Homo sapiens: one gene and its partner. The protein of the gene in region 1 interacts with the protein of each later gene in a pairwise test. Each region holds a gene or a part of one and is shown on either strand. Other genes may lie near its edges.

What was found. Proteins that work in one complex are often made in the same cells at the same time.
Region 2: the proteins of MITF (region 1) and HK3 interact in a two-hybrid assay, tested with the Homo sapiens proteins (one large-scale study listed by BioGRID and IntAct).

Annotation. Positions count from the first base shown.
Region 1 is NC_000003.12:69,959,423-69,963,070, forward strand, and holds part of MITF (microphthalmia-associated transcription factor), read left to right. Parts: intron 1-3,648. UniProt on the Homo sapiens protein: Transcription factor that acts as a master regulator of melanocyte survival and differentiation as well as melanosome biogenesis.
Region 2 is NC_000005.10:176,885,847-176,889,494, forward strand, and holds part of HK3 (hexokinase-3), read right to left. Parts: coding exon 3,535-3,648; intron 3,019-3,534; coding exon 2,863-3,018; intron 2,720-2,862; coding exon 2,486-2,719; intron 1,901-2,485; coding exon 1,605-1,900; intron 1,492-1,604; coding exon 1,355-1,491; intron 1,276-1,354; coding exon 1,156-1,275; intron 52-1,155; coding exon of another isoform or gene 1-51. UniProt on the Homo sapiens protein: Catalyzes the phosphorylation of hexose, such as D-glucose and D-fructose, to hexose 6-phosphate (D-glucose 6-phosphate and D-fructose 6-phosphate, respectively).

The DNA of each region.
Region 1 (3,648 bases):
ACGCAGCCTGAGTTGTGTAAAGTTTACTGCTTTTTACCGACTTCAAGACAGTAGAAACAGGGATATAATGAGCCATAGGGGAGTTGACTTACGTGATCCTAACACAGTCAATCCTTATTATTTGTGGATTCTGTGTGTGTGAATTTGCCTACTTGTAACCCCAAAGTCAGTATCTGTGGCACTTCCACAGTCATTCTTGGACATGTGCAGAGTGGCACGTTTGAGCTGCCCATGGCACGCATTTCCAGGTGAGGTCGAATGACCCTGCCTGAGGTTGACTGTCTGCTGTCTTGTTTCAGCTCTCATCCTCTAAACAAGTGCTCCTTTCGTGGTCTGTTGAGTACTTTCTACATTTTTGTGGTTTCTGTTGGTGATTTCGCTGTTTAAAATGACCCCCAAGCATAATGCTAAAGCACTGTCTAGAGTTCCTGAGGGCAAGAAGGCCGTGATGTGCTTACAGAGAAAATACATGTGTTGGATAAGCTTCGTTCAGGCATGAGCTACAGTGCTATTGGCTGTGAGTTTAATATTCATGAGTCAACAACATATATTACATAAGGTGACCTTCAACAGAAACATACATAAAACAAGATTAAGTGTTGTGACTAGGGTCTCACAGGAACCTAACTTGTAATTCCCCTGGGAACAGTGCTTCAGTGTTCACCAATTCAGTGTTCACAGTGACTTTGTAGAACATAAAAAAAATAAGTACTGACTATACCACGTTAAACAAGAAGATGCCTTAGTATTTGTAGGGTCCGGGAAGCAGTTGATGGTCAAAATCTGTGTTTACAGGGAACTTGGGAACACCCAGAGGATCTTATATTAAGGACATAATTCCTGGAGATAGTTATAAATAGTGGAATTATAGCATATATATCTTTAACTTAAACTATACACCATTAGAAGAAGACATACTAATTTTATTAATATGTGCCATTTGTGCGTCATCCTACTCAGTGGGTATATGCACCAGTGTAAGCCGGAGATGGGGAATTCCTCTTTGGTATCAACTCCTGGAACTTCTCTCAGGGGCTTGGCGTCTCTTGTTGAGTGAAAGGGCACTACTTCCTCTGAAATGATCCTCAAAAACAGACTCCCTGTTATGGACCAAAGGGGGTTTGTGAGGGTAATTTTAATTTGCTGACTTTGAACACAACCTATCTGTAAGAGTCAGTGACACCATATCTTCTTCTTGAGTAGGCTGACCCACCTTTTACTAGATTTTGCCATAAAGCAAGGGTTGTCTTTCAACTTTTCCAGTGCAACTATTCATGGAGTTATTTTACGAAACAGCAATGAGAAGTATGACACCCTAGCGACCATTGTGTTTCACCTAGTGGTGCTCCTCCCGGACGTTGAACTTTTCAAACAGAGCAATTCACTTATAATAATGGTCTCCAGTCTTCTGAATGCTTATATTTTGAAATGCCACATCTCTCATTCACTGCAGTGATTCCTCAGCTGTGGGGTGGGGAGGTGGGAAGCCACTTCCCTGTTGGGGTGCATTTTAGATTCTGGGTAGTGAAGTAGAGGTAGTGTGTAATTTGAAAGCCCTCCTTTCCCCTCCCCTCCTCTACTTTGGCTTTTGTTGTTGGTTTTATGTTCTGTCTCTTCAATAAGTAGCTATAGGTATTTAATCTCTCGAACATAGTCTGCCTATTTATAAAAGCAGCTTGTGGGCCGGGCACGTGGCTCACGCCTGTAATCCCAGCACTTTGGGAGGCCAAGGCGGGTGGATCACAAGATCAGGAGTTCAAGACCAGCCTGGCCAAGATGTTGAAGCCCCATCTCTACTAAAAATAGAAAAATTAGCTGGGCATGGTGGCGGGCGCCTGTAATCCCAGCTACTCGTGAGGCTGAGGCAGAGAATCACTTGAACCCGGGAGGCAGAGGTTGCAGTGAGCCAAGATCGCGCCACTGCATTCCAGCCTAGGCGACAGAGTGAGACTCCATCTCAAAAAAAAACAAAAAAATAAAAATAAAAATAAAACCAGCTTGTGGCCGGGTGCGGTGGTTCACGCCTCTAATCCCAGCACTTTGAGAGGCCAAGGTGGGTGGATCACGAGTTCAGGAGTTCGAGACCAGTCTGGCCAACATGGTGAAACCCTGTCTTTACCAAAAATACAAAAAAAAAAAAAGAAAAGAAAAGAAAAGAAAAATTAGCTGGGCATGGTGGTGGATGCCTATAATCCCAGCTACTCATGAGGCTGAGGCAGGAGAACCCGGGAGGCAGAGGTTGCGGTGAGCTGAGATTGTGCCATTGCACTCCAGCCTAGGCTATAGAGCAAGACTCCGTCTCAAAAAACAAACAAAAAAAAGCAGCTTGTACTAATGTGTTGTTTCCTTCTACAAGTATTAAAATGTAATAACTATTTTGAAAGAGAAGCTAGGTTTTGTTTTATTTTAGGGTTCCAAACATGTATATTCATATGAAATACGAATATTGTGAAATATGTGCATTGGAAATTCCATGGTGACGATATCTTGGTTTTCTTCCAGTGACGGTGTGAGGCAGCCTTTAGAACTTTTGCATATCACAGAAAACATTATTAATTAGGAAAGCTCTGTGATGCAATTAAGCCAGAGTTCTCTAGATGAGATTTATCACCTTATTTAGAAATCTGAGTAATGCTTTAATCGCTGATAAATATTTTTAATTAGACAACAAAGGATTAGAGTGAGATGTTTGCCTCTCTTAATCCAACTTTATTATTCTTTTTCTGAAAAGACAATCTGCCTGTGTGGAGGTACTGTTCTTATTAGCATGTTGGTGTAGATTTACAAGAGTCCATGTTTTCAGTATGGGCCTAAGGGCTTTCTTTCATTTTCACTCTAAGTGATGCATGCAAAAGTTTTCACAGAAGAAAGAGCATGAATCCTTTATGTCAGTGGAACTGCCATTTTATTAAATAGCCCAGGGCTTTCAAATGGTGCCTGAAGAAACTTGTGTTTCTGGAGATTATGTAAAGGAACTTGAAGGTACTTGTGTGACATGTCAAGCTCCTGGCTTTTACTCATATTGTATCCAAAGAAGGATTTTGCAGACCCAAAAACCTTGAATTTAGACTGAAACGTGGCTTTGCAGGCACATATGTTTCTCAGCTTGTGGGCAGAGGTTGAGAGGCCATGTCATATGGAGAGTCCTTCCCCTCTCTGATAAGGAAAGGTGACTTGCTTCAAATTTATATTCTCTTGCTATATATTATTGTTTCACAACCGTGGAAGGGATAGCATTGGAATGGAGAAGCAGAATGCTTATCAGGAATCAATTAAAGTCTGTGTGGTTCATTTTAGGAGTGCCCAGGGATACACTCAGAAAGGAAAAAGGGAAAGAGCTTGCTTGGAAGGCATTTTGCAATGAGTTACAGGGGGAATCAAGGGTATTTAGGAAGTGTATTACCCAGCTAGTGCTGCTGTAGTGAAATGCCACTGACTGGGTGGTAAACAAGAGTTATTTTCTCATAATTCTGGAGGCTAGTTGTTGTCCAAGATCAAGTTGTCAGCAGGGTTGGTCCCTTCTGAGGCCTCTCTCCTTGGCTTGTAGATGCCTGTCTTCTCCCTGTGTGTTCACATGGTCTTTTTTCCTGTGTGTGTCTGTCCCAATCTCCTCTTCTTACAAGGACACCAGTCCTATTGGGTTTAGGC
Region 2 (3,648 bases), on another chromosome or scaffold:
ACTGAGCAGGCTTAGCCTGGAGCAGAGCAGCCAAGCAGCAAGACTGGCCCACTGCACCATCCAAAGGACCACCGTGTAAAAGAAAGCAGAGTACAGAGTTGCATATCAGGTGGAGTGCGGTGGCTCACGCCTGTAATCCCAGAACTTTGAGAGGCTGAGGTGAGCGGATCACCTGAGATCAGGATTTCTAGATCAGCCTGGCCAACATGGTGAAACCCCATCTCTACTAAAAATGAGCTGGGCGTGTTGGCATGTGCCTGTAGTCCCAGCTACTTGGGAGGCTGAGGCAGGAGGATTGCTTGAACACAGGAGGTGGAGGCTGCAGTGAGTGAGCCAAGATCATGCCATTGCACTCCAACCTGGGCGACAGAGTGAGACTTCATCTCAAAAAAAAAAATGAGTTGCATATCAGAGAGAGGTCAGAGCAGGAGCAGGGGGTGAAAATCACATGGAGGCTGGTTGGAGTAGGTGAGATGAAGCTTTTCATTGATCACAGGTGTCTAAGAATGCAACTGTTGCCTTCAGGGGCAGTGAGCTCCTTGGCAAGAGGCTTTCAAGCAGAAGTTGGGTATGTTGAAAGGGAGATTCCTGGGAGTTTGGACCAGAGGCCCGGGAGGTATTGTTTCCGTGACAGGCTTCCGGTGTGCACATTGAGAAGTCCCTCATCCTTGTGTAAGAACAAGCTAAAGTGTGTGCTGAGTAGGGATGTGTGTCTTAGCCTGTGCCTGGCACTCTGCCACCCTAGTCATGCACCCAACACTGAGCCAGGCACTGAGAAGGAAACAAAGAAAGGAGGAGGAGAGAGGCCAAAAAAACCCCAAGCGACCTCAAGCCCCTGCTAGAGACAGGAACAAATGCTGGTTCCTGCAGGACCCTGAGGCCCACACACCAGTGCTATAGCTAAAATGGACGATCTGTCCTCTGATCAGCCCCAGTCTAGGCCTGACCTGCTCCCAAATGGTTCAGACCCTAACCCTGGGCCTACCCTGTCTGGGGAAACTGAGGCTGTGTGCAAGCCCAGCCCAGCAGTGCTGCCACCACCACCAACCCCAGACCCGCCACCGCCCAGCCTTTTCCCCTGCCTCCTGCCCACTCCATGAAGGGTATGTGGGGGCAGGAGGCCCTTGGGAATCACTTCTCTTGGCCCTCCCTCACCTGGTCTAGGCCAAGCTGCCTACATGGGAAGGAGAAGGTAAAACCCAGTGGGAGGCTCTGCCCGCTCAGGCCCTGCTTCTGCTGGAAGTCCACGATGCAGTCCACGATGTGGTCAAAGAGCTGTGGGGCAGGACAGGTCAGGCGTAGGCACTGCTCAGCCCTTCCCCACCTCTGACATCAAGGTTCAGGCTGTGGGTACCTGCTGCCCAGAACCCTGGGCCACAGTCTCGGGAATGGAGTAGATCTCGCTGGTGATCTGCACGCCTGTGGTCACACGTACCAGGAGGACACGGAAGTTCGTGCCCCCGAGGTCCAGGGCCAGGAAATCCCCTCGCTCTGTGGGGGCAGAGACCCTCAGTGCCGGGATAGGGCTTGTGGCTCCAGCCCCAGCACACACTGGGACCCCCAGGAGCCCATGTTTCGGTCCCACACTCAGGCCAGGTCCTTACCGCTGCCGTCAGGGGTGGCCCGGACGAAAGTGGGCAGCATGCGAAGGGAGGAGGCCTCCCCTCGGAGCCCCTTGGCCATGGCCTTCCGCATCTGTGCCTGAACCGCAGCCAGTTGATCATGGTTCAACCGGAATGGGGCCAGGGTCTCCTCCAGCAGGCGCCGGTGGGCAGCCAGACGGGCAGCCACGGCAGTCACCATCGCCACTCCCCGGCCACCACCATCCACAGAGGGGATTAAGGAGACATCGCATTCCGGGGCCAGGAGCATCACTGTCCCCTGCAGGACGCTGCAGAACCTACAGATACATACAGGTGCACCCGGCTTGGCCCTGGACCCCCAGACACACACAGGTGTGCACGGCTTGGCCCTGGACCCCCAGATACATACAGGTGTGCCCAGCTTGGCCCCAGACCCCTAGGGCCTCCTGAAGCCCAAGGCCCCATCACTTTTTTTTTTTTATTTTTGTAGATATCGAGTCTTGCTCTCTCACCCAAGCTAGAGTGCCACGGAGTGATCATGGCTTACTGTAACCTCAAACTCCCAGGCTCCAATGATCCTCCCACCTCAGCCTCCCAGTGTTGAGATTACAGGCGTGTACCACCATAGCCAGCCTCCCCTATCACTTCAATTTGAAATCTGTTCTGTGCACCAGCCATACGCCCCCGTGTCGCCATGGCCTCCACCCTTGCACACACAAAGGGAAGCATCGTTTCTCTCCTTGGATGTCTTCTGGCCTCCCATAGCTCAGTCTGGCCCTCCCTCTGCCTAAGTGCCCTTCGTGTCCACTGGCTTGCACATGTGATCCCAGAGGGCCCTCTGGGTGTGTATCACACACACGTGTTCATGCCAACTAATCATGCGGATCACGTTTCCACAATACCTGGGGTGCCGCTCACACACTCGGCCTCCGGTGGCCACAGCAACCTGGAGTGTTTGTTGCTCCCGGCTGTGCTGGAGGCAGGAGAGAACAGCGGCCAGGGCGGCAGCACAGAGCTGGGCAGCCCGCGTGCACACGGCCGCACAGACGTGCTGCACAAGCTCAACATCCGAAGCCCCAGGGCTCAGGCCCAAGTCCTGCAGGATAGCATGGACACGGGCTGCCCCAGTAGAGGGGCTGGAGGGGAAAGGGAAGTGGTTTGGGGCTCAGCCCAGAAGCTCCCCATCCCACTAAAGCCCCATGGCTACCTTGGGAACAGAGTATCATCCCCTTCCTCCAAGCCAAGAATCCCCCACTAAACCACCATCTCCCCGACTCACTCCTCCATCTCAGCCACGTGTTCCAGGAGGATGCTGCCTTGGCTCAGCAGGGCAGGGGAGGTGCAGCCACCAAAGAGGACCCCACACCGGGCCAAGTGAGCCAGCACCAGCCGCACCAGCTCACCCAGGTACAGGCCTCCGATCATCTTCTCAAACCTGCAGGGGGGAAGGGTGGCTGGAGGAAGCCTTTTCTAAGCCCTCAGTCCACCTGGCCCTACCTCCAAGAGTTCCCAAAGAAGGATTCTTTTCTTTGGGGCTCCCAAACTGGAGACTCCAGAAGCAACGAATAGCCTCCCAGAGGACAGGTGGGTGTATGCCCAGACCCCACTGCCCCCTCTGACATAGGTTACATTCAGAAGCCTCCTGGAGAACAAGAAGGACCCAAAGGAAGGCAGAGAGCAGTTTGCTCAACCACTTCCAGCCCTCAACCCCCAAACTGTCAGGGCAGGCCAGAGTCAGGAACAGGGAAGATCAAGGGTTGACAATTCTGGATTCTAGAACTTTGGGCCCTTCCTTCTTTGAACCTGGCCAGGGCCCCCAGGTTGCTCCCTGGAGACCCTCAGAGTGACAGGGAGGGGCCTAAGGGCCTGAGAACAGGGACAGAAGGGGTTGGGAGCAGAGCAGTCATAGACAGGGCCTGGAACCAAAGGTCAGGGCCCCCTGCCAGGTCACCTCTGAGCACCAGGATTCAGGGACTCATGGTCCAGGGTATGGTCGAAGGTGGTCAGCACTGGTCCCAGCGCCCCATCATCGCTGAAGGAGCCCCACTCGACGCTGACGCAGACG